4 linked regions of the Homo sapiens genome follow. The protein of the gene in region 3 purifies or fractionates together with the protein of the main gene of each other region. This does not show direct contact. Each region holds a gene or a part of one and is shown on either strand. Other genes may lie near its edges. The genes, in order: AKAP5, AKAP11, PRKACA and PALM2AKAP2.

Region 1 (7,325 bases), on a different chromosome or scaffold from region 3:
AAGCATGGATGCCTTTTCCTTCTGCCTTTCAGCCCCAGGACTACCTTCTGCTGATCTCTTCTCATCCTTGTTTTCTACATGAATTTCTGAAATTGTGGTTTCCATTTTTACACTGCACTCTTATTCTCTAGAAAACTGTATTCTCTCTTCCTTAGCAGCCTTTTGTGACAAAAAGATGAGCAAAAATGTCACACTAGGTAAAATTTCTTCCAGGCATATTCATACCTTTCATCTTACTCCATACAGTTGTTTTAGGTGGTTTCTCTAGTATAGAAATGCCCAGTTTCTCTATGGCTTGTAATTTCTCTCTTTAATTTCTTGATGAAAGCCCTTCTTTGGATAAATTTTTGCTTTATTTAAAGATCAACCTGATGAGAGAAAAGAAAGTGGTATTTTATTTCACTATGAGCCTATTATTTTCTGTGGAGACTATTTCAGTGAATGTATAAGATTCTACCAGGCATATTTTCCATATAATAACTTAATGAAATGACTGGAGAATAAACATTGGGGTTTACTTTGGCCCTATTAAAGAGTTCAGTGTGATTCTATTTTGTTTTATCCTCCTTGTTGAAACTTCATTTTGGATTACCCTGCAAGTCTGATATTATCAGTTCTTTAGTTGTGTTGTCTGTGTGAATTGCTTATGACTCTAAAGTGCAAGTTAAGCAAACAACAAGAACCAAAAATGAAGTGCAGGATGAAAAGCAAGCTGATGTAATCTTTATCACACTCAATAGATAATTTTAAAGCTGCAAAGGACTTTAGAGATTATTTGAGATTACTCAAATCCAGCCAGATGACAAAACTGAACTCCAGAGGGGAGCAGTTGTCTTGTCAAAAGCCATGCAACTAGATAAGGTCATAGCCAGAGTTAGAACTAGAGACTTTGACTCTCTAGTTTTACCATTATAACATAAGGTTTCTGTTCTAAAAATGTATGTTCCATCAAGGAAGTGCTATTTTTCATACATATTCTTAGGAAAATTTAGCATTACTGTCATTTCCCACTCTTAAATTAGTTGTACAATTTTGACATTTTCATTTAAGTACTGTATCTGCTGTATCACATGTTTCCACCATAATCTGCACATAGTTGGAAGTCAGTAAGAGTAGTAATAGCTGACATTTATTGAGCAATTCTTGGGTATTAGGCAGTGCATGCACTTTTACATACATCTCTAATCCTCACCACAATATTACAAAGATGGTGGTATCACCACGTACAGATGAAGCAATTTGGCTGAGATTACGGCAGAGCTGTAACAGAGCTCAGATTAACACAAGATTGCTTGTTGCTTAAAGCTTATGTTCTGAAACTGGGCTTTAAGAGTTTCGTCAGAAAATGAATTGTTTGGGGATACTAATCTGCAGTGTTTCATTAGTAAAAAAATTAAAAAATTGATTAATGGTCATTTAACCATAAGGCACTTATCAACTCATAATTGAACCACGAGTAGACTGAGTTCTTGTCATTTGAAAACCAAGCTTTTGAAATTCTTTATATTTTATTTTTTTGGTTCAGGAACTAATTTAAAAGCCAAAAATAAGTTGGCAAACTATGCAATTGGCAAACTTAGATAATATAAAGGTGTATTGAAAATTTAATCCTTAGAATGGTATGATGGCACCAAAGAATGGAAATGGGAGGTGATTATCCAACAAAGATCCTATGAATTTTAGTGGGTGGATGCCCTAAAATAAGCAAAGGGACTCATTCTTTATATTGTTTTTATGTAAATCCTTCACTGAAGTTTCATTTGGGTAACCCATAATTTTATGAACTGTAGAAGGAACTGGAACCCTGAAAATCAGTTTATGATCTAAGTAAATATTATCTTAGGTTGGGTGTTTCATACTGTGTGCCTCTAACAGAAAGATAAAGTCATTCTAGAACAATGACGGAACTAAAATATGAACATTTGACAGTGTTTCTCCTCACAATGTTTCAGTGAGCACTAGAACCTAAGCTGATAACTGTTTAAATCTTCTCACCTCTTGTGAGTTTTCAGCACCTGAGCATTTTTGTTAAGCAGAGGCTGTATTACCACATAATAGAAATATTGAAATGAGATGTTTAGGAGTCTGTCATTGGAAACTAACCTGGATTGCGCAAAGACAATCGTTTGAGAAGCTCACTTGAATGTATCTCACATACTAGAAATAAAACGAATACCCAAACAGAAACTTAACTAACGAGGGAAAATAATGCAGTCTGTAGACAATAAAACTTTGCAGAATGTCAGACTGCAAATGATTCGCTCTTAACCAGCAAGGGTAGCTTTATCGCCTCAGGAAATCTTAAAGTCCCTGTGCTCATTTCCTGATGGAATTGCAAGTCTCATGTCACAGAAAACACCCCCTTTCCTTTTTCCCTTGAGCAGCCAGTACCCGAGGAAAGCAATGCATCTTTCCCAGCACCAGATACGGACCACGAAGCTTCCTCCTGGAGGAAGGAATCTCGAATTCTGGCTTGACGCCCCTTATGGCAGGAGACAGAGCGCAGGATAAAGTACTCAAAAAGGAAAATGCCGGGGGCGTGGAACAGATAACCCAGCTTCAGGCTGTCTGCAGAATTATAATGTAATGGCCAGAAACCCAAAATCACATTTCTCAAAGAGGGATAAAGAAGGAAAAAAGCCACCGGCAACCCATGCTTCTAAGACAAGCTGTAACGCGAAGGGGATAGGTGGGCAGACCTGATGAGGGTCGCCCTGGCCGCGGATTCCAGCGGACAAGCGACCTCCCGCGTTCTTACTCCCAGCACCTCAGAGGGCTCGGATACCCCGTATCCAGTGGGCACCTCTTGCCCACTCCGCGGTCCGCGGACCGGACATTGCCCCCGACCCTCCTCCCCCGCAGGCTCCCCGCCCTGCCTTTACTTACGTAGGGCGTCGGGGTCCTTGGCCAACACTGCTCCCGAGGTGGCGGCGCGCTCGCGGGGCCCGCCGCCCAGGCCTCCAGGGAGCCGCGGTCGCACCCGGAGCAAGGCGCCCTCTGCAGAGCCCGCCGCCGGGTGCGCCCCCTCCCCACCGCGCGGGGACAGACAGCAGGCAGCGCCAATGCGAGCGGAGCGGAGCGGGCGGGCAGGGGCGGGGCGACCGCCGGAGGCGCGGGGCGGCGCGGGCGCCGGGACCCACCTGCAGCAGCAGCCTGCCTGCCTGCCGCGGGGAAGCCCATCGTGCTCCGCCCGGGCGCCAATCTCCACTGCCAGACCACATCAGCGCCGAGGCGGGGACCGCAAGAGAGCCAGCCGGAAGGTTCGGGGGGCGGGGGAAGGCGGGGGGGACCAGGGCAATGAACCCCGCGTTTTCTGAGACGCTAAATAGTGAGGTCCGGTTTCAAATTATAGACAGTCGCATTACACATCTCCTCTCCTCCCCCTCAGAATATTTAAAGACAAGGCAGACATCGCATTTTAAAAGCAGGATTCAAAACTGTGCATAGAATAGCGAGGTCATGTTTGTTTGAAGCGAAAATTACATATATAAATGGAAACAGAAAGAAACCCGACTTTCTCAGGAGTGGCTTGAGTGTCAGATCATCGTGGTTCATCGCCAAACAGGCTTTCAAACCTTTGTCTCCCAGTGGGAAGCAGGTGGAGGTGATTGGTGCAGAACTTTGGCCTGCAGGAGCAGCTGCATCTCTATGCGGACAAGGTGAGAAAGGCACAGGAACCCAGCTCCATCCATCTTATACCTTACATAGTTCCAAAAATAAGTTGAGGTAGCTTACAAGTTACCCATGATTCCCTTCAGGACATTCCCTATGAGGGCATTCCTGGGAGCTCCAGCTGTAAAATCTAGTAGGATCCATCACAATCCCAGCCTCCTCCTCTGGCCCCCATAGCATAGCATCCAGATGAAGAACCTGGTAAGGTGAAGTGAAGAACTACTGAAAAGCAGCCGCGTTCATCTCCTTTCTTCAACAGGATCACGACCTTAGGGAGTGTAAATGTCAGGTGTCCATTTTTGTATTTTTTCCGGAAATGTTTTATATTTGTAAGATTCTGTAGTTTCCACAGAGGCTTATCAAGGAAAGAACTCTTGAGACACAAAAGCAAAGCCAAATATAAGCTGTCAAGATCTTAAAATTACAGATAAAAGAGGCAAGAGTTGTAAAACAGGAAAATCCATAAGCATCTAGTTTAGTTGTAATTAAGAATTCAGGGATGGGCGCAGTAGCTCACACCTGTAATCCCAGCACTTTGGGAGGCCAAGGCAGGAGGATGGCTTGAGTCCAAGAGTTTGAGACCAGCCTGGGCAACATAGGGAGACAAAAAAATCTAAAAAATTAGCTGGGCATGGTGGTGCACGTATGGTCCCAGTTACTCAGGAGCTCAGGAGGCTGAGAAGGGAGGATCACTTGGGCCCAGAAGGTCAAGGCTGCTGTGAGCCACTACTGCACCACTGCACGCCAGCCTGGGCAACAAAGTGAGACCCTGCCTCAAAAAAAAAAAAAAATTCAGTCAGCCTTGTTCACTCAGCAAACACGTCTATCGAAATGGTCTGCGTATCTCTCTATGGGTTGCTAGCGCTGCTTGTTGCCAGTTTTGAACTTTAAGCCAAAAGAAATCCATTATGCTTATAAGCAATTGAGAACTATTCCTTATTGAGATCCAAGGTTTCTCAAAACTAGCAGACCTGGGAGTTTGCAAGAGTTTCAGGCAAAAAATAAGATGAGCTTATTTAGGTGAAGACAGGGTAAAATAGCTGTCTTATTTTTATTTTTATTTGAGACAGGGTCTTGCTCAGGCTGGAGTGCAGTGGTACAATCCCTGGCTCAAGCAATCCTCCCACCTCAGCCTCCCATGCAGCTGGGACCACAGGTATGCGACCACATGCCCAGGTTCTTCTTCTTTTTTTTTTTTTTGTAGAGATGGCGTCTCCCTATGTTGCCCAGGCTGGTCTTGAACTCCTGAGCTCAAGTGATCCTCCTGCCTTGACCTCCTACAGTGCTAGGATTACAGGTGTGAGCCCCCATGCCTGGCCTTCACTTGCCTTTCTTTTAAACAAAATTAGTAAAAGGGAACTGAAAGGCAGTTTGAGGTGAGAGATGAATTTATTTAGTATTTGAAGGGCAAATTCGGACAGACTTCCTTAAGGTATATTACAAACAAGTCATCCCTGACCTCCACCAACACACATACACACAGAGTCACTCACACAGAGTATAGTACTATAAATAACATAGCGCACCATAGTTTTTCTTTAGGATATGACTAGAACTCAATGCCATATGTGTGTGTGTGTGTGTGTGTGTGTGTGTGTGTTTAATGTATCCAGTACCTCATGCATGAAAGAAACCTGTCATTCCTGAATTCAGGTAAGTGACAACGAAGGCTGTTTAAGCTATTACCCATATCATTGTCTACTACCCCATTAGTAGCTTTTCATTATATAACAGGAAATAGGCTATAAATGTATTTCTGCAATCTGATGAGAAATTATCCTACCTATAGCTTATCATGTTAATATCACTAGATACAGTGTGCCAGTAAAATAGCTTACATATTTATCTGAGCAATACTCTACTGATCTTACCATTTATCCCATCTTGATCTCTACCCATTGCCTGGGCCTATAGCTACCAAAAATGACTTATAACTCCTTGTTAATAGCTCTTACATTTCAGAGGCCTTCTGGGAATAAGCCCTCCAACCCCGTTCCCTGGGACACCATTGAATGAACCTGAGGCTCCAAGTCTCTGGTGGTTTCATCTGTTCCTGGGCACCATGAGGGTTGCACAGAGCCAACACAAACTCAATAGTAATACTGTTGCAATCTGTTTAATGTGGCAGCACATAAATGCTATCTCTTTTGAATTAAGACTGTGTGTACATCTTCAGTGCACAGAAACAGCCTCTGAAGTGAGATCAGAGAATGTACAATTTGTTTATCAGTAATATTACTAATAAGGGGAAGGAAGGCATTAGCAGCCCAGAGAAGAGAAAGGGCACGGGAAAGCCACTAATCTGGAGGGACTCTTAGCACCAAGGTAAAGGCACTAGACCTTCTCTGCCAGCACATGCTAATAGTTACCCCAAGCACTAATGCTTCTATAGGTCTTTTTTATTTTGACACAGGGTCTTGCTCTGTTGCTCAGGCTGGAATGCGGTGGCTCAGTCATAGCTCACTGCGGCCTCGAACTCCTAGGCTCAAGCAAACCTCTCACATCAGACTCCCAAGGAGCTAGGACTACAAGCGTGCACCACACACTCAGCTGAGTTTTGGGGTTTTGTTTTTTGTAGAGATGGGGTCTGTCTTGTCCAGGTTAGTCTTGAACTCCTGGGCTCAAGTGATCCTCCTGCCTCAGCAGCCTGGACAAGACAGTGAGACCCCATCTCTACAAAAAACAGAACTTCAAAACTCAGCTGAGTGTGGTGGGATTACAGGTGTGAGCTACCATGCCCAGCCCCTACCAGTATTGAGGATTTAAACCCATGTGGCTGTTGGCGATATTAGGAAACCTAAATCCTTTAAGATGATCCTTAAGTCACCATATCTGACAAGACTGCATCCTTCCCTTGTCTACAAAATGAATTCCCAGCAAATCCCATTCCAGGTGAAGTTTCACAGGACATTAAGAAATGTACCAGAAAGCGGTCGGGCACAGTGGCTCACGCCTGTAATCCCAGCACTTTGGGAGGCCGAGGTGGGAGGATCACTTGAGGCCAGGAGTTTGAGACCAGCCTGGCCAACATGGCAAAACCCCATCTATACTGAAAATACAAAAAATTAGCCAGGCATGGTGGTGCGAACCTGTAATCCCAGCTACTCGGGAGGCTGAGGTGGGAGAATCGCTTGAACCCGGGAGGCAGAGGTTGCAGTGAGCTGAGATCACGTCACTACACTGCAGCCTGGGCAAAAGAGCACGACTCTTGTCCCAACCCCCCTACCCCCCCTGCCAAAAAAAAAAAAAAAAAAGGAAAAAAAAAGTACCAGAAGCAATTAACTCTGCAAACAGGGCCTGGAGGATGCTGTGCAACAGGAACTGACAAGTGCTTACAATGTGCCAGGCCCTGTACAAAGCATCTTAGATGATGTGTTTGAGTAATTCCAGAACCGCCCTCACGAGGTAGGTACCAACAGTGCTCCTATTTCCATGGTGAGGATGTGGAGGCAGGGAGGTGGGTGAGGCTCTCTGCCATAGAGCTGGGGCTCTGCACTGTGACCCCTTTGCCATATGCCTCTCAAGGCAGCGCTATCATTTCTGTGGACTGTAAAATTGACTGTATTACAACATTGACATGGACCTAGGGAATTAAAAATAATAAAACCAAGGTCACTGGGAAAAATACTGCTTTGCCAACATCAGCAGTGTTT
Region 2 (7,023 bases), on a different chromosome or scaffold from region 3:
ATAGGCATACTTTTCTTTTTCCCTCGTGCTGCTTCTTAAAAATTTGTGATTCCTACATATTTCCTTTTGTGGCAGTAAAGTGTCTCCTCATAGAGGAGGAAATAACATTTTTAGGTCTTTCTGAATAATGCATATCAGGTGATTATGGGCAAAAACTGCTGTATATTTTGATTGTGGCCTTGCTTGAAGGAAATAATTTGGACAGAAGGAACAAGAGAGGATATATTCTTGAGAACATACATAGCTGGAAAGAGAAGTATTCCAAGATATTTCTTTAATGTTCTTCTTCTCCTTTAAGAGTTACTGATAAAACCATGTTTATAAAGGAAAGTACTCTACAAAGGGTCAAAGACTTTAATAATTCTTTAGCTGGGTAAAATATTTGTGTATAAAGGGCAAACAAGAAGAAGAAATAAAAGCGATTTTCTTTTCCTTTAATCTTCATTAAAATTATCAGTTAAAGTCTAATACAATACCTTGGAGAGGAAAGATAGAAAAACGGATTATATTGTACAGAGTTTTTAAAAAAAAGTTTTTAAGATGTACATTCTCTAGCAAAAAATTTTGTATGAAAAAAATTTCATAAAGTTAAGTTAAGACCTATATGTTGACATTGCTAAAAACTATTAAATGCTTAATTGTCATGGATGTGTTAGGTACCCTGTACAATTTTTTTATAGCTTGATATCAGTACATTTTAAAGGCTACGGGGATAGCCAGTATTTAATAATTTTAGTATATTTTATTTTTGAATTTTTGAAAAATTATCTGTGAATAATAAACTGTATATGTTAACTATTATGAACCAGGAAATTCACTAGCCAGTAGACCTTAAAATTTTTGGATAGGGTCCACATTATAGGAACCTTAACAAAAGTGTTACTCTACAGTGTTACTTATTGTTATTATTTTAAATCAGGATTTAGCTGCAGTTTCTTTGGAACTTCCAGATATTCTGAATTCACTCCACTTCTGCAGTCTAAATGAAAATGAAATTATTTGTATGAAGAATATAAATAAACCATTAGATATAAGCAGTGATCCTCTAAATCAGGTAACTTTTGTAGATAATTTCTAATGAGATTTTTAGGGCAAATTTTACTATATTTGATAAAGATGATTAAACTTTTAAATGCTTGGATGACATTTGTTTTTTTTAAATGGTATCTCAAGGAAATATGATTCATAAGAAATATAACTCATGAAGCATTGACATCCCTGAAGGATATAATAATTTTGGTCATATCTTATAAATTATATTTTTTAACTGTGAAGTTCCGTAGATGGTATGCAAGTACATGTTAATTTTTTCTGAAAATTTATTATTTCTGGATTTCTTGAACTACTTTTACCTTTGTATAAGCTACAGTGACTTTTCCCTATTATGGCCAATTTCAAATTTATATAAATGTTACGCTATATGTTTTAGAGAATGTACTTCAGTTCATTTTCTGGTTTAAAAAAATTCCATGTAAAGTGGACATCTGATGTGTTCTTTATAAATAAAAATGTTACCATTTCTTACAGGTGGTTAGTTTTATAATATTCAGCATTTAGTTCTTTACCAAGTATGATTTTGTTGATAATGCATCAGAGAAAATGCTTTGCATTCTAAGAGATAAGACATATACAATTGAACCAGAAAATTTAAAATTTGGATTATTTTAGTTTTAAAAAAACTGCTATGTTGTTCTTTATAAGGTCTGCCAATAAAACTAGAACTGCTTGCTTCATTTCCTTAATTATGTTCTTTATTCGTATTTGCTTTATTTGCTAGGATATAAGAGGTGATAAGCTATTATATTTGATTTCTAGTTTTTTGAATAAATAATTTCATCAGTATTTACTTGAAAAAAGTAGTATGAGGGGGAAAATCTGGTTACTTGTATTTTTAAAGCTATAAACATTGTAAGTTGTAATGCTAGGGAAATTTAAGTAAAAGGAGTAGACTTTTAACAATTGTGATAGGAAGGAAGATGGCATCATACTTGAAACTACGGGAAAATGGGATTAAAAATAAAAGAAAATAGAACTTGGTTGCTGCCCCCAAACAATTTATAATAGTTAGTGAGATAGGTGAATGATTAAGGAAAATCATAGGGCTGTACAGTAATACAGGAAAACATAATTGCTCAAAGGAATGGATAGTAAGTTTCATAACATTTCAGGAGACTGGGTAGAATTTGAATACCTGGATAAAAGAAGATGGGAGAAAAAAGGACTGGAAAGTGAAAAATGTAGAGAAAGAATTAAGAAGTAAACATTACAAAACCAAGGAGCTTTTCAGGATGCATGAATTTCTTGTTTGTTTTTTTCTCTGAGATTGTCTTATATCTAGGCTTTACTTCATGTTGTTTTGTATTTGAAATTAAAATTGTTTTTATTATCTTTTATCTTTCCCAAGAGTCATCCTTCTGGAATGCTTTGTGTCATGAGAGTGTCACCTACATCACCAAGACTTAGGATTGATTTTATCTTTAGTCTCCTAAGTAAATATGCTACTGGTATAAGGTACACCTTGGACACATTCTTGCATCAGAAGCACCAACTTGAGACCACTGATGAAGATGATGATGATACTAACCAGTCTGTGTCATCCATAGAGGATGACTTTGTCACTGCTTTTGAGCACTTAGAAGAGGAAGAGACTTCAAAGCCATACAATGATGGTTTGTTTTTCATTAGACTTTTTCCTAAAATAGGGAATTAAAATTTTTCAGTTTTGAAAATTTTAAGGCAGGCTTGTTCAGTTGAAATTTATGTTGAGATTTGATTCAATTTAAACCTTTTAACTTTTTTTCTGATTACCTAAGGAAATTCCTTATGATTTTTAAGTTCATTGTAATCTGGTTTTCAGTTTTGCTTATTTCAGGTTTTCATATTTAGTTGGTGCTGTTCACGCACTGGTTACATCATTAAGTGTCTGGAACATTCCTAGGTTCCAATTTTGGAAGAGTTAGCTGGCAGAGTCTCCACGGTAATTTTTCTAACATGCGTGACAGCATGCAAAACATCCCATAGACCAGGTATCCCTAGACATAGAGTAAACTGAAATTATTTTATAAACAGTATATTTACTTTCAAATGTTACTTGGGTGAATCTTTCTGTTAAACATAGTTTAGAAGATACACATAAATATTATATGTTTAAAGTCAGTTTATTCCATGGATTTAAGTTAATTTCCAAAAAGTTTTGTTCAAAAATAATTTCACCATTTCATTCTTTTCCTATAGGAATGAACATTACTGTGCTAAGGAGCCAGTGTGATGCTGCTTCCCAGACGGTTACTGGTCATCATTTAGAAACCCATGATTTAAAGATTCTCATTAGCTCTGGACAGCAGAAGTCATTGGCTAAACCCTCAACTTCCTCAGTGAATGTCCTGGGACATAAAGAACTACCTTCTGTGAAAACTTCAGTCACAACATCAATTTCAGAGCCTTGGACCCAAAGGAGTTTCTATAGGTCATCTAATGCTTCAGATAAAGATAGTGATTTACAGAAAACATTTTTTTCGTCTTCTCCTGCCTACTCATCTGAATCAGAATGTTCAAGTCCAAGTCCTGTTATTTTCTTGGATGAAGAGGGATATCAAAAAAGCTTAAAAGCAAAACTTGAGCTGCCTAAAATTCCTGTGATGAAAGATGATATAGAGGATTCAGACTCAGAAGTAAGTGAATTTTTTGATAGTTTTGATCAGTTTGATGAACTAGAACAAACTTTAGAGACTTGCCTGTTTAACAAAGATCCCGTCATAGGGAAGTCATCGCAGAGGAAAGGGCACAAACATGGAAAGTCATGTATGAATCCTCAAAAATTCAAGTTTGATCGTCCAGCTCTCCCAGCTAATGTTAGAAAGCCAACTCCTCGTAAACCAGAATCTCCATATGGTAACCTGTGTGATGCTCCGGATTCTCCTCGCCCAGTGAAGGCATCAAGGGAAGATAGTGGTTTATTTAGTCCTATTCGATCCTCTGCTTTTAGTCCTCTTGGAGGCTGTACTCCAGCTGAATGTTTTTGCCAAACAGATATTGGTGGAGATAGGATTCATGAAAATCATGATTCTGTTTATTACACCTATGAAGACTATGCAAAAAGCATTTCATGTGAAGTACTAGGCTCAGTTCTTCGTACCCACCATACTAATACCCTATCAAATATTAACAGTATTAAACATGGAGAAAATAAAACTGTAACTTTTAAGCATGGAAACCTTGATCAAAAAAATAAATCTAAAAATAAATCCTTAATGATTAAAGATAGCATTCAAAAATTTGCAGCAGATCTTGTGGAAAAAAGTTTTGGCAGTGCATTTAAAGACTTACAGAAAGGAGTCTCTTCATGTACCAATGCTTTGTACCACTTAGCCATCAAATTGACATCATCTGTTTTGCAGATGGCATTTGATGAGCTGAGAAGGCAGCGTGCATTTTCACTAAAAGAACGTGCCATTAGTGGCCTGGCTAACTTTTTGGTGAGTGAAGCTTTATCAAATGCCTTAAAAGATTTACAGTATGTAAAGAAGCAGATATTCACAAACACAGTTGCTAGGTTTGCTGCAGATCTTGCTGAAGAGCTTGTTTTTGAAGGCATCATGGAGGTGTGTCAGTTTTCATATCCTCAAACGCCTGCATCTCCACAGTGTGGGTCGTTTGACTTTGAAGACAAAGTAGTGAAGTTGTATGCAAAAGATTTGTCTGAATCTGTAATACAGGAAGCATTCATTGAGCTATCACAAGTTGATGTGACCTTTACAACAAAGGCAGCAGTTAGTGTCTCTACGGATAATATCAAGTATGTGAGTGCAGAAAGTGTAGTGCCATCGACACAGGCTGTCACGTTTTCCCCTTCTTTTCACAATCAAGCAATTATGGTGACAAAACCAGTGCAGGAATATAAAAAGGAATACACAGTGCAGCAGGCCTTGTTTTGTACTTCTGGAATTGTTACTTCTATACCGGTGCCCTTGGCAGGAAGTGCCCTTCTCCCATATCATATTTCATCTACTGCATGTCAGGCCAAGGCTCATCTGTCATCTGATGATAGTAATTCAAATGGTGATTCTGCCCAAGTGCATATTGCCACAAAAAACAGAGAAGAAAAAGCAGCTTGTCTCAGAAATATTTGTTTACCTTCAGAACACAATCCAGGTAATCAGAATGATTTTAAACCAACTAATGACGATATTGAAATGCAGAGTTCCTCAAAATTACCAAATGATCCTGCAATTATTAGCAACTTTTCTGCAGCAGTGGTGCATACGATAGTAAATGAAACTTTAGAGTCAATGACATCATTGGAAGTTACAAAAATGGTTGATGAACGTACAGATTATTTAACTAAATCTTTAAAGGAGAAAACCCCTCCATTTTCCCACTGTGATCAGGCAGTGCTGCAATGCAGTGAAGCTAGTAGCAATAAGGACATGTTTGCTGACCGGTTATCTAAATCTATTATTAAACATTCCATAGATAAGAGCAAATCAGTGATCCCAAATATAGATAAAAATGCAGTATACAAGGAAAGCTTGCCTGTTTCTGGAGAAGAATCACAGTTGACACCAGAAAAGTCTCCCAAATTTCCTGACTCTCAGAATCAGTTAACTCACTGCTCACTTTCAGCTGCAAAGGATTGTGTTCCAGAATGTAAAGTTTCTATGGTTCATGGATCCTCCCTAGAGACACTGCCATCTTGTCCAGCTGTGACAGGTCAGAAATCTGACTTGAAGGAATCTGCTAAGGATCAACCACTGAAAAAGCATAACTTGAATAGTACATCACTTGAGGCCTTGTCTTTTGGACAGGAAAACCCCTTTCCTCATTCACATACTTTCTCATCTACAGCACTTACCTGTGTAGATGGTTTGCATGTGGAAGATAAACAGAAAGTCAGAGACAGAAATGTAATACCTGATACTCCTCCATCAACTCCTCTAGTACCATCCCGGGCTAGTTCTGAATGGGATATCAAGAAGTTAACTAAAAAGCTCAAGGGAGAATTAGCCAAAGAGTTTGCACCTGCTACACCACCTTCTACTCCACACAACTCATCTGTTGGTAGTTTGTCTGAGAATGAACAAAATACTATAGAAAAAGAAGAGTTCATGTTGAAACTCATGCGATCTCTTTCTGAAGAAGTTGAGAGTAGTGAAAGTGGAGAGCTCCCAGAAGTGGATGTGAAGTCGGAGCACTCAGGGAAGAAGGTTCAGTTTGCAGAAGCATTAGCTACACACATCCTTTCTCTTGCAACTGAAATGGCAGCTTCCCATTTAGATAACAAAATAATTCAAGAACCCAAGGTTAAAAACCCTTGCTTAAATGTGCAAAGTCAAAGAAGTGTGTCGCCTACTTTTTTAAACCCCTCAGACGAAAATTTGAAAACATTATGCAATTTTGCGGGTGATCTGGCAGCAGAAGTCATTACAGAAGCTGAGAAAATAGCAAAAGTCCGAAATTGTATGCTTTTCAAGCAAAAGAAGAACAGTTGTTATGCTGATGGTGACGAAGATTATAAAGTAGAAGAGAAGTTGGATATAGAGGCTGTAGTGCACCCAAGAGAAGTGGATCCGTTTATTCTTTCATTACCACCAAGTTCTTGTATGTCAGGTCTGATGTATAAGTATCCCAGCTGTGAAAGTGTGACAGATGAATATGCAGGTCACCTTATTCAGATACTAAAACAGGAAGGTGGTAATAGTGAGTTGATAATGGATCAGTATGCCAATAGGCTTGCCTACCGATCTGTTAAATCAGGATTACAGGAAGCAGCTAAGACAACCAAAGTGCAGTGCAACTCAAGAATGTTCCCTGTGCCAAGTTCACAAGTGAAAACAAACAAGGAACTGTTAATGTTTTCAAACAAAGAGCACCACCAAGAAGCAGACAAAAAGAGACAAAGTAAAAGAAATGAAGGTTACTTTTGTAAAAATCAAACTTGTGAAAGGACCCTGGATCCATATAGAAATGAGGTCTCCCAACTGTATAGTTTTTCAACCTCTCTGGTTCACAGCATAACAAAAGATG
Region 3 (7,023 bases):
TCCCAAGGCTATAAATACCTCGGCTGGCGTCGGCCCTGGCCATGGAATGTCGGTCAGAACTGGGGCGAGTGGGGGTGGGCTGGTCTGCCTGGGCACCTCCCTCCGTTCCCCTGCGAGTGACCCCTGAGACTCTCTGTACCCCACTTTGGATGGAGTGGCAGCTGGATCCCACCTCTCTGTAGCAAGGGAGGCCCAGGCCACGGCCCAGCCAAGGCCCCAGAGGCACCAGAAAAAGGTCAGGCTCTGGGTTGGAACTGCACCCCACTTTCCACCAAGTATCTCCCCAGAAATCACCTGAACCCACCCCGGTGAGACGGGCGTCTCTGTATAACTCTCCCCTCTCTCCCTTTCAGTGAAAGAATTCTTAGCCAAAGCCAAAGAAGATTTTCTTAAAAAATGGGAAAGTCCCGCTCAGGTAAGGCTGCCGGGTGCAGAGCCCAGGGAGGGGTGAGCTGCTAACCCCCAGCCCCTGGCTGTGTCCCAGCAACACAGCTAGAATTTCAGAAACCCCATAGAAGGCTTCAGACCCTCCCCATTTGCTCCCTAGGTGCCCATGGGGGCTCCTGTGTGGAGACACCTGACTGCCCAATGCCAGGCACCCCCATCCCACCACCCCTCCCAACGGCCCGCCCCTGCCCCCAGCACAGCTGCCAGCAGCTTCCAGGCCCCAGGCCAGGGCCGGATCTGGCCCCTGCCACCCGCCTTAAGGAATGTGCCCTCTGCCATCTTGATTTTCCGCCCCCTGTCCTCACCCCGCTGACCCCACGTGCTCCCCGGGGCCCCCTCTGCCGGTGGCAGAGGGGATGCCCCAGACCTTAGCCAAGCAGGCCGCGGGGAGGGCGTGCCCTGAGCCTACCGACCCCTCTGCCCACAGAACACAGCCCACTTGGATCAGTTTGAACGAATCAAGACCCTCGGCACGGGCTCCTTCGGGCGGGTGATGCTGGTGAAACACAAGGAGACCGGGAACCACTATGCCATGAAGATCCTCGACAAACAGAAGGTGAGGTGGCCTGTCCTCGCTCAGGGCCTGCCTGTCAGGCCTTTGCCTGGACTGTGCCCACTCCTTAGAGTGCCCTATCCACCCGTTCACTCACTTGCTTTTTTTTGATTCAGAGTCTCGCTCTGTCGCTCAGGCTGGAGTACAGTGGCGTGATCTCGGCTCACTGCAACCTCCACCTCCCTAGTTCAAGCGATTCTCCTGCCTCAGCCTCCCGAGTAGCTGGGATTACAGGCGCCTGCCACCACACCCAGCTAATTTTTGTATTTTTAGTAGAGATGGGTTTTCGCCATGTTGGCCAGGATGGTTTCGAATTCCTGACCTCAGGTGATACACCTGCCTCAGCCTCCCAAAGTGCTGGGATTACAGGCGTGAGCCACCGCGCCTGGCCGCTTGGTTTTTTTGTGGGGGACAGGATCCTGCTCTGTTGCCCAAGCAGGAAAGTGCAGTGACGTGATCATAGCTCACTGTAGCCTCAAACTCCTGAGCTCAAGAGATCCTCCTGAGTAGCTGGGACTACAAGCGCACACTACCATGCCTGGCTAATTTTTTTTTGTTGTTTGTTTGTTTTTTGTTTTAGACAGGGGGTCTTGCTGTGTTGCCCAGGCTGGTCTTGAACTCCTGGCCTCAAGTGATCTCCTACTTCAGCCTCCCAAAGCACAGGGATTACAGGCATGAGCCACCATGCCAGGCTCACCCACTATTCCCCGAGCCCCCATAATGTGCCAGCCCCAGGGGTCAGAAGGGCCCTGTGCCGCCTTCCCAAAGCTCCCTCTCCAGGCCGGCCATGGATTCAAAGCCAGGCACTGTGACACAGGGTCAGACACCAGCCCAACAGGAGGAGAACAAGAGCACTCTTGGGGGAAGTGGTGTTTATGTGCACTTTCTTCCCGTAAATATTTTTGTGATCGGACTTTATACCAGGCACTGCTATAAAGCAGCAATGTAACTAGCAGAAATGTAACCTGAGCCACAGAAGCAATTTTAAATTTTCTGTTTGCTCCATCATAAACAGTAAAAACAGCCAAGCACGGTGGCGCACGCCTGTAGTCCCAGCTACTAGACAGGCTGAGGTGGGAGGATCACTTGAACCCAGGAGTTCAACTCCAGCCTCGACAACACAGCCAGACCCCATCTCTAAAAAAACACCCAAAGTTTGTAATTAAAAGAGAAAATGAAAGAAACAGGTGTCATTCATGAAATTCATTTTAATGACATGTTTGGGGCTTTTTTTTATGTTTTTTTTTTTTTGAGACAGAGTCTCACTCTTGTCGCCCAGGCTGGACTGCAGTGGCGTGATCTCAGCTCACTGCAACCTCCACCTCCCAGGTTCAAGTGATTCTCCTGCCTCAGCTTCCCAAGTAGCTGGGATTATGGGTGCCACCACCACGCCCAGCTAACTTTTGTATTTTTAGTAGACTTGGGGTTTCACCATGTTGGTCAGGTTGGTCTCGAACTCCTGACCTCAGGTAATCCGCCCGCCTCAGCCTTCCAAAGTGCTGGGATTACAGATGTGAGCCACCACACCTGGCCTAATGATATGTTTTAATTAAGCCAGTATATCTACAGTATTACCCTTTCCATATATTATCAATGTGAAAATATCATTAATGAAACATTTTACATTCCTTTTGTTTTTTTCCCAGTCCTCCATGACTTCGGAAATATTTCCTTTTTTTCTGTACTGAAGTATCTTTAAAATCCAGTGTCTATTGTATGCTTACAACAGTTCTCAACTCTGATGGTAAATTTTTCCTGGAAAGATAAGAAAAAGCAGGGAAGTTGAAAAAGCAGATTCACATGCCCAAGTTGTTCCAACCATGCCTGAAAGTCACCAGTACCTGCATCAAGAGTTTAATTTTTGTTTTGTTTTGTTTTGTTTTGTTTTTGAGATGGAGTTTCGCTCTTGTTGCCCAGGCTGGAGTGCAATGGCATGATCTCAGCTCACTACAACCTCTGCCTCCGGGTTTCAAGCGATTCTTGTGCTCCAGCCTCCTGAGTAGCTGGAATTACAGGCGCCGGCTACCACGCCCAGCTAATTTTTTAATTTTTTTTTTTTTTTTTTTTGAGATGGAGTCTCGCTCTGTCGCTCAGGCTGGAGTGCAGTGGCACGATCTTGGCTCACTGCAACCTCTGCCTCCCGGGTTCACGCCATTCTTCTGCCTCAGCCTCCTGAGTAGCTGGGACTACAGGCGCCCACCACCACGCCTGGCTAATTTTTTGTATTTTTAGTAGAGATGGGGTTTCACCGTGTTAGCCAGGATGGTCTCCATCTCCTGACCTTGTAATCCACCGGCCTCGGCCTCCCAAAGTGCTGGGATTACAGGCGTGAGCCACCACACCTGGCCAGTTTTTAAATATTTTTAGTAGAGACAGGGTTTCACCATTTTGGCCTGGCTGGTTGTTGTTTTTTTTTTTTTTTTTTTGAGACGGAGTCTCGCTCTGCCACCCAGGCTGGACTGCAGTGGTGTGATCTCAGCTCACTGCCAGCTCCACCTCCCGGGTTCATGCCATTCTCCTGCCTCAGCCTCCCGAGTAGCAGGGACTACAGGCGCCCGCCACCACACCCGGCTAATTTTTTGTGTTTTTAGTAGAGACGGGGTTTCACCATGTTAGCCAGGATGGTCTCGATCTCCTGACCTCGTGATCCACCTGCCTCGGCCTCTCAAAGTGCTGGGATTACAGGCGTGAGCCACCGTACCCGGCCTGGTTGTTTTGTTTTTGAGACAGGGTCTTGCTCTGTTGCCCAGGCTGAAGTGCAGTTGGGCTCAAATGATCCTCCCACCTCAGCCTCTGGAGCTGCTGGGACCATAGTCGTGCCATGCCCAGCTAATTGCTTTTGTTGTCCTTGTTGTTGTTTGTAGAGATGGGGTCTCGCTACATTGCCCAGGCTAGTCTCAAACTCCTGGGCTCAAGCGATTTACCTGCCTGGGCCTCCCAAAGTGCTGGGATTACGGGCGTGAGCCACCATGCCCAGCTGGTGTCAGTTTTTTAATTTATATTTTAGATACTTAAAATTTTTGAATTTGGCTCCCCATCCGACCAGCCATATTTCAAGGGCCCAGCATCCCCCTGTGGCTAATGGGGACTGAACTGGGTAGGGCAGGTATAGACTCTGAGGACACAGCTATGTGAGCAAAGCAGTTGACAGCTGACTGAGGGACCAGGCTGGCCACATGTTACACACCAGCCTGACATCAGCCAGCTGTGTGACCTTGGACAAGTCACCTCCCCTCTGTGTCTGGTCTTCCAAACTGGCGTACTCCCAGCATGGGCCTCTAGGGCTTCTATCCTGATTCAGTGAGAGACTGGGTGCCAGGTGCCTGCTCATGGCATCTGCTATTAGGGGACAGCTGATGGCTGAGGAGCTGTTAGCCTGAGGTTCAGGTTGCTGTGTGGAGTGTTCTAGACAAGGGTAAGGCAGGTCCTAAACCCCCCACCTCTTGGGCTTCTCCTGCCTGTCTTTTCAATTTCAGTTCAGCTGCCCCTTCCTCCAGAAAGCGCTGTCTGATTCCCCCTTCCCCAGACCACGCCAGGTACTTTACATGGGCTTCTTGGGGGCTGCTTCTCCACAACCCCAAGATACCCTCCACCACGGCTCTGACCTCTGTGGGGGTAACCCATGTATTCTTTGCCCTGGACTTAGTGCCGTGCAAGGACAAGCAGCCCCTAGCCTCCCTGATGCTGTGTCCTCAGCATCAGCTAAGGGCCCGACAGGCCACAGGCACACAAATGATTCTGGCTGAAGGAACCGGCCTGGCTCCGGCATCCCTAGTTCCAGGCATTAGGGGAAATGAGGCCCCTCTCACCTCCCCCTCCTTTCTGCCCTCCCCTCCTTCCCTTCCCAGGTGGTGAAACTGAAACAGATCGAACACACCCTGAATGAAAAGCGCATCCTGCAAGCTGTCAACTTTCCGTTCCTCGTCAAACTCGAGTTCTCCTTCAAGGTGGGGTCCCAGTGGCCAAGGGCGGGGGGTCACTGCATTGGGTCCCAGCCTTCTGGCCCCCAGGGCTGGGGTCGGAGCTGAGGACAATCAGTGGCTGCTCTCTTTTGTGGAAGAACAAGATCCCTGGAGGAGGGAGATCAGGGGACAGGAGTCAGGCTGGGACTCTGGTAGACCCAAGTTCAGTTCCTGGTCCAGCCAGTTTGTAGTTCGATACCCTTGGTGAGTCACCCAACCTCAGTAACATCCCTCAAAAGCAGCACCTGGTTTATGGTAAGAGCCTGACCCAGGAGCACAAACTCTGCCCCAGGCAGCCGGGGTTCATTTCCCAGTTCAGTACTTCTTGATGTGTGGCCCCGGGCAAGAGACTTATCTCCCCAAGCCTCAGCTTTCTCATGGTAAAATGGGGATCATACCAGTTCCAGCCTGGTGGGGTTGTCATGACAGTTCCAGGCACGTCTTGAGCGCCCTTTGGGAGCCGTTTTGGGTGCCATCCAAAGCTGTGGTCATGAGAAACAGGAAAGGCCACTCAGGGCCAGCTTCATGGACGTTTGACCCAGAGAAGCACAAGGGCCTGTTCTCCGAGGGACCCCACACCTGGTTTAACGCTTTGCTGCTGCTGCTGTCTTGAGATCCGTAATAATTTTTTTTTGTTGAGACAGAGTCTCACTCTGTTGCTCAGGCTGGAGAGCAGTGGCGCAATCTTGGCTCACTACAACCTCTGCCTCCTGGGTTCAAGCAATTCTCCTGCCTCAGCCTCCTGAGTAGCGGGGATTACAGGTGCCCACCACCATGCCCAGCTTATGTTTGTATTTTTAGTAGAGACAGGATTTTGCCATGTTGCTCAGGCTGGTCTTGAACTCCTGACCTCAAGTGATCTGCCTGCCTTGGCCTCCCAAAGTGCTGGGATTACAGGCATGAGCCACTGTGCCAAGCCTAATTTTTATTTTTTTTATTGAGACAGAGTTTGGCTGTTGTTGCCCAGGCTGGAGTGCAATGATGCGATCTCAGCTCACCACAACCTCTGACTCCTGGGTTCAAGCAATTCTTCTGCCTCAGCCTCCCGAGTAGCTGGGATTACAGGCATGTGCCATCACATCTGGCTAATTTTGTATTTTTTAGTAGAGACAGGGTTTCCCCATGTTGGTCAGGCTGGTCTTGAACTCCTGACCTCAGGTGATCTGCCTGCCTCGACCTCCCAAAGTGCTGGGATTGCAGGTGTGAGCCGTGCCCGGCCATTTTGTTTTGTTTTGTTTAAGATAAGGTCTTACCCTGTTGCCCAGGCTGGAGTGCAGTGGCGCAATTACAGCTCACAACCTTTGCCTCCCAGGCTCAAGCAATCCTCCCACCTCAGTCTCCTGAGTATGAGACTACAGGTGCACGCCATGATGCCCAGCTAATTTTTGTATTTTTGCAGAGACGGGGTCTCACTATGTTGCCCAGGCTGGTCTCAAACTCCTAGGCTCAAGTGATCCACCCACCTTGGCCTCCCAAAGTACTGGGATTATACAGGCATGAGCCACCACACCCGACCCTCTGTAATAATTTTTTAACCAGGGGCCATCTTTTTTATTCTGGGCCCCACTAATTCTGCAGCCTATCATGATCCCATTTTACAGATGACAAAACTGTGGCCTCAGAGCCTTACTCAAGCTCCCAGAGCAAGGTACTACAGAGTTCTCTCTCCAGCCAAGGCAGGCTAACCAGGTCCTGACATACCTCTGAGCCAGCCCTCACTTTCACCCATTAACAGCAGGATAAGGGTCGCCCCTGTAGAACATGATTCCTACAGGGAGCCAGGATCGCTGTTGTCATTTAATGTTTGAACACCAGCCGGGGAGGCCCCCAAGGCCTTCAGATCGGGTCCAAGTCTCAGGGGTGGGCCCTTGACCAGCCACTGCTTCCCACAGGACAACTCAAACTTATACATGGTCATGGAGTACGTGCCCGGCGGGGAGATGTTCTCACACCTACGGCGGATCGGAAGGTTCAGGTAAGCGGGCCACCCCCCATCACATCAGGCTGTCAGGGTGTCCACAGGTGGCAGTGCACGACCAAGCCCCCTGGGAATGCAGAGGA
Region 4 (7,953 bases), on a different chromosome or scaffold from region 3:
TGATATTCATTTCTAGCCAGATTTCCAATTGCTCATTTTCAATCTGCTATGTAAAGACCTTAGCCACTATATACCTTAAGCAACATTCAGCCTAGTTTATTTTTCACAATGGTGCTGTTTTCTGACTTCTTTCTATCTTCTTGCTCCATGGGGACTCCCTAAATGAATCTATCATTTGGATCCCATGGAGAAAAATAGCATATACTTGAAATCCCATCAACTTTCCCAAAGAGCTAACAACCACAGGAGCCAAGAGGACCACAGGCAATGTTCTCCTTCTTTTGATTCTGTGCAGCTATCACATATGTTTTAAATGACCATTTATTTTCAAAAGATCCCAGGCAAAAAAGAACTAACACAAATATAAACATTTGAGGGGATCCTGGCATTCCTTTCAAAATTACTTTTGTCCAAGGGAAGCTTCAGGTTGCTGGGAAATGTCACACTCATAGCTCTTGCTCAACAAGACTGACTTTTACTCACACAACGGGCCTTGGCAAGTCATTTCCCTTTTGGTATACAGAGCTCTTGTTTTCCCCACAAAGGAATTGGCTATGATCGTTTGTGATTCTCAAAGGACTCATGTTCTAAAATAGATTCTGAAATTTTTATTAACAAAACATCTATTTTGCATATCTAGCATTCTGTATCCTTTTCGTATAATGCTTTGCAATGAAGCATCTATCATAAAAACCACTAAACCGTACAGATGGTGTTTATGCAACACAATTTAATGTCCCAGCAAGAACTAGTGATTTGTTACATACATTATGCATCATTGTGATGTATATATCCAGATTTTAAATGTTTGGAGGGCAAATAGTCACCAATATCATTGTGGCACTAGACTACGATTTTTTTTCTTAATACCAGGCCATGGCCAAACATCTAATATAAAATAATTATACAATATGTTTATTAAATAAATAGCATAGTTTGGGTTTTAAATGCCTGTGTTTGTAATGGGTTCAAAGATTTTAAAATACTAAAATTTAGAAAGTTGAAAGAAGTGCTGGAAGAGGAAAAAAGATTTTCCCTCTGCTCCTTGGCCAACCATCAGGCAGTCATTTCATGTGCCTTCCTGTTTCACCTAGGGTTCTTGGTCCCAAGCAACAGAAATAGATTCTGGCTGATAGGAGCAGAAAAAGAATGAAATGAAATTGTATTAGATAGCTCACAGGAGAGATGGAACGTCCAAAGAAGGAAGCTTGGGCAATGGGTACAACCAAAGGTGAACTAATAGCCTGAAGGAATTCTCTAACATGCTCAGTCTCCAAAATTCTTGGCAGGCACACATGCCTGACTGAGCCGAGATTGCCTGCCATACCATGGCTTCAGGGGGATCTGGGGAACAAGTGTCTGATACCTCCCAGCTTCTACCACAGGATGTGGCTCTGCCTCTCACTATGGCTTTTAATATGGGAAATCCCCAAAGATGGGAAGGAGTTCACAAATTGGCCAGCCAGAGGAAAAAAAAATGTGTATATGAACAAGTCTGTTACACTTCCTACCTGGCCAGAAGCATTTTGAATTTCCTCTCTTCTTTGGCTTTTTGTCTTACCTGCTTTGATAATCCGCAACACTGAATAAACACAAGCTTTTTTTATTGTGGGTCTCAGGGCAGTTAAAAATCACTTAGGAAGTACACACTATTGGTCATGAGTCTTTAGTCTATTCCTAGTAAATTCAATTAGTACAAAGGTTCTAAACCCATCCCTAACTCCCACATCACCCTGTAGAAATTTAATTCTGTACAGGTCTTCAGGAGATTCTGATGCAGATTTCTGATTAGGAACCATGTTTTAGTCTTTCTCATCTTTCACAGTTTCTTTACAAACGATTTCTATTTTTCTGAAGCCCCAACCCTACGCCATCAGTCTTAATCAATGACTCTTTGTTCAATTGGGAAAACCAGTCCATCTGATGCAAATTCACTTAACCTCTCTCCTGAGAGTTGAACTCAAACTTTCTTCTTGTCTTTATCCATTTCTTCCTCCTTCCCTACTTCGTTATTCCTTCTTCCCAAGGCTAACTGGCTAATGTGATGCTCATCTGAATGTCCTCTTGACTAATTAGAGACTTTGACTAATATTCACCTTCCTTTTTGACTGTATCTTTGGCCTAATTTCCCTGTTGTCTAATTTGCTTTGACCCCCAAACATCCAAGTCTTGCCTGACCTAAAAACCCTTTCCACTAGACCCTGCTTCCCATGGGCTATGTTCCTGTTCTCCACCTTCATCTTTCACATCTGAAGAGCTGAAAGAAGCAGTTTGTACTCATGGTTGCTTCTCTGATCTCTCGCTCATCCCCATTTTTGTTTGTTTTATTTTCAACATTCACTTGGTAGCAGTCATTCCTCACCTCTTGTAAGTGCTTCCAAGCTCATCTTCTGGACACAAGTCACTCATGGCTTACTGACAGCCCTCCAATGGTCTCTTCTTCATCTGCATCCCCCATGACCTTTCAGAAGCATATGACCCTGTTGAAAACCTCTTTCCTTCTTTGTGGCTTTTGGTGCAAATCCCTTTGAATTTTTCCTTCTACTTCTCGGATGATACTTTATCAGTCTTCTTTGCTGGGCTCTCTCCTCTTCTTGCTCTGTTTTCTCATCCTGGCTGTTCTCATTTCTTTAGCTGTAACCGCAAAGTAGATGACACTTGGATGTGTGTCCCCAACCCCGATTCTTCTATTCAGAGTTCAGATATTTCCAACTGATCACTTCCAAAGGGTGCCCAGGCCCTTTTCCTTCTCCATCTCCCCATTCCATCACTCCTTTTAAAAATTTATTGCGGTTAAAAATACAAAACTTAAAATTTACCATTTCAACCACTTTTAAGCATATGGTTTGATGACAGTAAGTACATTCACACTGTTGTGCTCAATCATACCTTTTAAATATCTGTATAGCTGGGAGTAGAAGGACCATTTCTGGTTCAATTGTTTATTCCTGGGGCCTGCTTCTATCTCCATATCATTGGCCAAGCCTGGTGCTTAATGGTTAAGAGCATGGGCTCTGGTGAGTGTGATCTGAGTTTAAATCCCAGCTCTATAACTGTAGCTGAGTCTTTCAACCTCTCTGGTCTCATTTTCCTCATCTTAGTATTCTCTACAATCACTCTGCTGAAGCAATAACAGCTTTGTTTATTTGTGAGCAAACCCCTTTAAATAACTTGTCCTGCTGGGGCTTGTGCTGGAAATGAAGAAAAAAGGATGCATTTGAAGAAAAGGATGGGCTTAGCCAGAAAGTAGAAGTTTCTGATATATTGGAGTGGGATGTAGAATCTGGCACTGGCTTGGATTTATTAAACAATCAGCTCCACCTACACTTGTTATGAAAAAGATGGGAAAACAATCCATCAGTAAACGATTTTGGTGAGTGCTTCCATCTTTGGTCAGAGGAGTAATTGTTCATCAGTGACAGGTGAACCTCTGTGAAAATTGAAAGGGCAATTTAGTTGAAATGGAAGCATTTATTCAGGAAACAGGTGATCTGGGAAAATTTGATGTGCATTTTTTTTTTTTTTTTTGAGACAGAGTTTCACTCTTGTTGCCCAGGCTGGAGTGCAATGATGTGATCTCGGCTCACTGCAACCTCTGCCTCCCAGGTTCCAGTGATTCTCCTGCCTCGGCTTCCCAAGTAGCTGGGATTACAGGTGCCTGCCACCACGCCCGGCTAATTTTTTGTATTTTTAGTAGAGAAGGGGTTTCACCATGTTGGCCAGGCTGGTCTCGAACTCCTGACCTTAGGTGATCCACCCGCCTTGGCCTCCCAAAGTGCTGGGATTACAGGTGTGAGCCACCGCATCTGGCCTGATGTGTATATCTTTTAACATGCCTTTAAATCCTATGGCTCTAAAGAGGCCATATTAGTTATTTCAGTGTTTATTTCATTTGATGAAGAAACGTTTGCATATGAATGTTGGGAATTCTAGCAGGTCCTGCCTCAATGTGAAGAGGCATTTTTTTTTGCTTTTGGCATTGATCTCCTTTTGGACTGGGCCTGATCCACTTCTTACATCCAGTCCAGGACCTGTCACAAAAGACTCACATTAGTACCACATGGTATCCTGTTTTAGTAAAGAATAGGTGAAATATTTTAGTGAGTAGATCCTACTTTTCCTTTCAGATGCAATGAACAGAAGACCCTGAAAGGATTTCAATCCAGAATGTCACAGGATAATAAGAGCAGATGTCTGTGATGCCCTTTACAAAGCACCTTTACATACTGTCTCTCATTCGTCTCTAATGACACCTATGTGATCCTCCATTTTTTCAGATGAGGAAACTGAGGTTCAGAGTGATTAAGCGAGTTGCCTGAGATTTCACAGCTAACACATTGTGAAATCTAGTCTAGCACCCAGGACTAAAAACTCTCGGCTTCTTTTAAGGCCACATATCGCCTCACCAGAAGGGTGGCCTCTCTGGAGATATACCCTACCCTCGGCCGACTTGATATTGAGAACTTGGTCATCTTAAGCATGTGGGCCACTTGGGCAAGGCAGCCCTTCCCAAATTGTAAATGTCCCCACGTGGAGCTCAAGCGTCTGGCTTGAGCCAGAAGGTGCCCTGAACACTCGGTGGCCCCAGCCCCCACGTAACAGCACGTGCTCGGGTCCCACATTCGGTCAGACGCCCCTCTCCACTGGCATCTGCCCGGTGGAGGCGCCACTGCGCTCTGCCTCCGCCCCAGCAAGCGCGTGTCCACGCGGGCGCGCCACGCCAGCCGTGCGCCCCAGCGGCTCGCCGTGCGCCCGCGCCCCAGGTGCCCACTGGCTCGCGCGCCCTCCGTCTGCGCCTTGGAGACCCGCGGCGGCGATCGCTCGGAGCCGCCTTGGACCGCGGCCTCGGGTCCATCACACTCCAGGGGCGGAGCGAGGCACCGAGACGTCAGGGCGGAGAACTAGCGCCGGGCTAGCGCGCCCTCCCGGCGGCTGCCGGCGTCCCACGTCCTCGGCTGGCGCGGCCGGCGGCGGCGGCGACCGGGAGATGCAGTGAGCGGCGGCGCTGGGGCGCAGCCAGGCGGCCGGGAGGGCGGGGGCCAGAGGCTGAGCCCGGGCGAGCCCGCCGTGCGCACAGCTCTGCCCGCCGCCCCTGGAGCGGATCCCCAGCCGTCCCTGGGCGTTCTCCCGGGTTCTAGCAAAGCCCCCCGGGGTGCCCATCAGTTTCCTTGGGTGACTACAGCGTGTGTTTTTTCTTTCCTCTTTCCCCTGCCTGTGTGCCCTTCTCCAGGATGGCAGAGGCGGAATTGCACAAGGAAAGGCTGCAAGCCATAGCAGTAAGTCCACTTTCATTTTATTTTCTTGCTCTATTGTCTGGGGTGGAAGGGGGCCCCCGAGGGTTTCGGGGCAAGCGGCATGCCAGCACAGTAGCCGCAGGTCATATGTTCCAGGGGCTAAAACTCTGTCAGGGCTCAGCTAGGCTGCCTTTTCTTTTCTATGTCTATAGATGGAGACCCCCAAGGGCGCGCTTTGGACTGAGGATTTGAATGTGGAAGATTGGCTTAAAAAAAGATGCTTGCTGCTGGGCTTTGGGGAAGGACTAAACAGAGGCTTGGGGTGGGGGGACGACTCCAGGAATATTATGACCGAATGCTCAGGCATACGTTGGCTTCATAGCCTGGAGAACCAAGAGAAGGGTGACCTGAACGGTGGCTGCCATCCTCTCTGCGGAAGCTGTCCTCCTGTTAAGTGGAAAACCAGGAGTCAGCGACTCAGCCAGCCACGCGGTAGAACCTCCTCCCAGAAACCGGGAATGTTAGTTTTCCCTTCTCTGTTTGATATTGACAAGGGCACTGGCACAAGCCACCACCCTGGAGGTCTGGGGACTTCATACAACTGGGTCCTGGTTATAATATTCCATGAGAGCCTCCTTCTTATGGTGTGGAGTATCTGAAAACCTATTTTCAGCCTACAAAGGAGTAGTCAGTTTTGGCAAAGTTCGTAGGCACTTTCAGAAAAGTGTACCCATGTGCATCTTGGGTTTAAAAAAGAACTCTCTGAGACTGCCTAGATTTGAGCAATCTTAACACAGTGTTGCCAATGATCCACAGATGTGGTATTTTTACTGGAGCCACCACAGCTGGATTATATATTTCCTTCGAGGATGAGGGAATGATTACTGCTGCCGTATGAAATAGTAACAATTAAAAAAGAAGGTCCGTTAACATATTGGCATAAAAGAATCTCCAGACATTCTTCCACCTAAATACATTTGTGTTTTTCAGTTCGGAAGTTCTCTGGAAACACATATAAATTTGTTGGAGAAATAGTGTGTAATGTTTTGGAACCAAAGTATATTAAAGCGTTTTCCAAAACCTTTTTGGACAGATTCTTCATTGGGAAAATGCACACAGACCCTTCCTTTTTTAGAAGCATTTGACATGGTCTCCAAGGCTCTGAGACCCTCTTTCTCAAACGCCTCAAATCTGAAATGTCTTGGAGACTTCACCACTGAAGTGAGAGAGATGTTTGCTGGCAATATTGAAATGCCATGGTTTGCCTATTAGGTAATCTTTGAACGTGGTGCTCTGAACTCAGAAAGGTTGTTTTTTTCTTCTTTCTCTTTCCCCCTGTGCATGTGTATTTTGATGGTTTGTGAAGTTATTTGTGGTTTCTAAAGTTGGTGGCAAGGCAGCATGGCCAGTGTGTCATGAACTTGATAAGAATGGTGATATTGAGTTAATGGTGCCATGTAGCTGGTGGGTGTTTTGTGTGAACTGGATAATAGGCTGCTTTAACTGTTGATGCAGTGGCTGTTCCCATTGGCTGCTGCTGAAGGCTTCCAACAGTTGTCACATTTTCTGCCTTTGCACAACCAGCTTTACTGGATGCCTGAGGAACAGCTGAACTCCATGAAAGGACTTGCTTTCCAAACATGGAGCCAGTAGCTGCTAACACTGGGGTACCCTTTTCCAAGTGCGGTTGAGTAATCCCAGCAGAGGCCAAGTCGATTTTCCAAGAAAGATCTAGGCAAATCTTTGGGAATTCTCTTGAGCATATAAGAATACACACAAATACTCACTTGTGCCTCTTCAGTTATTGAAGAATTGAGTTTGTCCTGTGTATCTGGGGAGCTGTTGATTATTCTCATGAATGTGCACCTAATACAGTCTGCCCTCCCTATTCATGGGTTCCATATCCACGCCTTCAGTCAATCTTGGATTGAAACTATTGGAAAAAATAATAGATAGCTGAGTCTGTACTGAACATGTACAGACTTTTTCTTGTCACCATTCCCTAAATAATACAGTATAATCAACTGTTTACGTCGCATTTACAGTGTATTAGGTATTATAAATAATCTGAAAATGATTAATGTATGTGGGAGGATGTGAGTAGGTTATATGCAAATACCATGCTATTTTATAGGGACTTGAGCATCCTTTGATTTTGGTATCCAAGGGGGTCCTGAAACCAATTCTCTGAGGATACTGAGGGATGACTGTATGATGTTGTCAGGACAGATTTGCTAACAGCGTGTGTTTGTTTGTGTGTGTGTGTGTGTGTGTGTGTGTGTGTGTATGTGTGTGTGAGAGAGAGAGCCAATTAAGAGACAGAGGGAGTTGGGTGGGGGGACTTATGGCCACATCGGTAAATGGTTTTATGCTATGCTTTGGTCTAGTGCCTACTCTTCTGAATTCTGCAAACCCTGACTCTCTCATCACTTTCCTGGAGTTCTCAGGGGACCCTGAGGAGATCACAAGCCTGCCCCCAGAACCTAGCACTCCTGAAGTCTCTCTGGAGATGTGAGGGAAGAAGACAATAGGTCCTCACATCTTCACTTACTTGGGCTTCTCTCTCAGAGGCAGAGAATCGACTGGGATTCCAGTCTGCAGGGCCTTGGGCAGTCTTTAGTCTGGGTCTCAGCTCCTTCATCTGTAGAATGGGTTCATGAGTTCTACCTCCTGGGCTGGTTGTAAGGTTTAGTTAGGATGGAGGTGAAGCACCTGGCAG

Evidence for each region.
Region 1: the proteins of PRKACA (region 3) and AKAP5 purify together in Homo sapiens (affinity purification with mass spectrometry; 6 studies listed by BioGRID and IntAct, with this or other methods). This does not show direct contact.
Region 2: the proteins of PRKACA (region 3) and AKAP11 purify together in Homo sapiens (affinity purification with mass spectrometry; 5 studies listed by BioGRID and IntAct, with this or other methods). This does not show direct contact.
Region 4: the proteins of PRKACA (region 3) and PALM2AKAP2 purify together in Homo sapiens (affinity purification with mass spectrometry; 5 studies listed by BioGRID and IntAct, with this or other methods). This does not show direct contact.

The regions. Positions count from the first base shown.
Region 1 is NC_000014.9:64,461,175-64,468,499, reverse strand, and holds the start of AKAP5 (A-kinase anchor protein 5), read right to left. Parts: upstream 3,002-7,325; 5' UTR 2,887-3,001; intron 369-2,886; 5' UTR 106-368; coding exon 1-105. UniProt on the Homo sapiens protein: Multivalent scaffold protein that anchors the cAMP-dependent protein kinase/PKA to cytoskeletal and/or organelle-associated proteins, targeting the signal carried by cAMP to specific intracellular effectors.
Region 2 is NC_000013.11:42,296,129-42,303,151, forward strand, and holds part of AKAP11 (A-kinase anchor protein 11), read left to right. Parts: intron 1-919; coding exon 920-1,054; intron 1,055-2,404; coding exon 2,405-2,669; intron 2,670-3,234; coding exon 3,235-7,023. UniProt on the Homo sapiens protein: Binds to type II regulatory subunits of protein kinase A and anchors/targets them.
Region 3 is NC_000019.10:14,100,740-14,107,762, reverse strand, and holds part of PRKACA (cAMP-dependent protein kinase catalytic subunit alpha), read left to right. Parts: coding exon of another isoform or gene 1-52; intron 53-353; coding exon 354-415; intron 416-874; coding exon 875-1,003; intron 1,004-4,848; coding exon 4,849-4,947; intron 4,948-6,854; coding exon 6,855-6,937; intron 6,938-7,023.
Region 4 is NC_000009.12:109,775,258-109,783,210, forward strand, and holds the start of PALM2AKAP2 (PALM2-AKAP2 protein isoform 3 (PALM2-AKAP2)), read left to right. Parts: upstream 1-4,940; 5' UTR 4,941-5,230; coding exon of another isoform or gene 5,231-5,231; coding exon 5,232-5,276; intron 5,277-7,953. UniProt on the Homo sapiens protein: Binds to regulatory subunit (RII) of protein kinase A. May be involved in establishing polarity in signaling systems or in integrating PKA-RII isoforms with downstream effectors to capture, amplify and focus diffuse, trans-cellular signals carried by cAMP.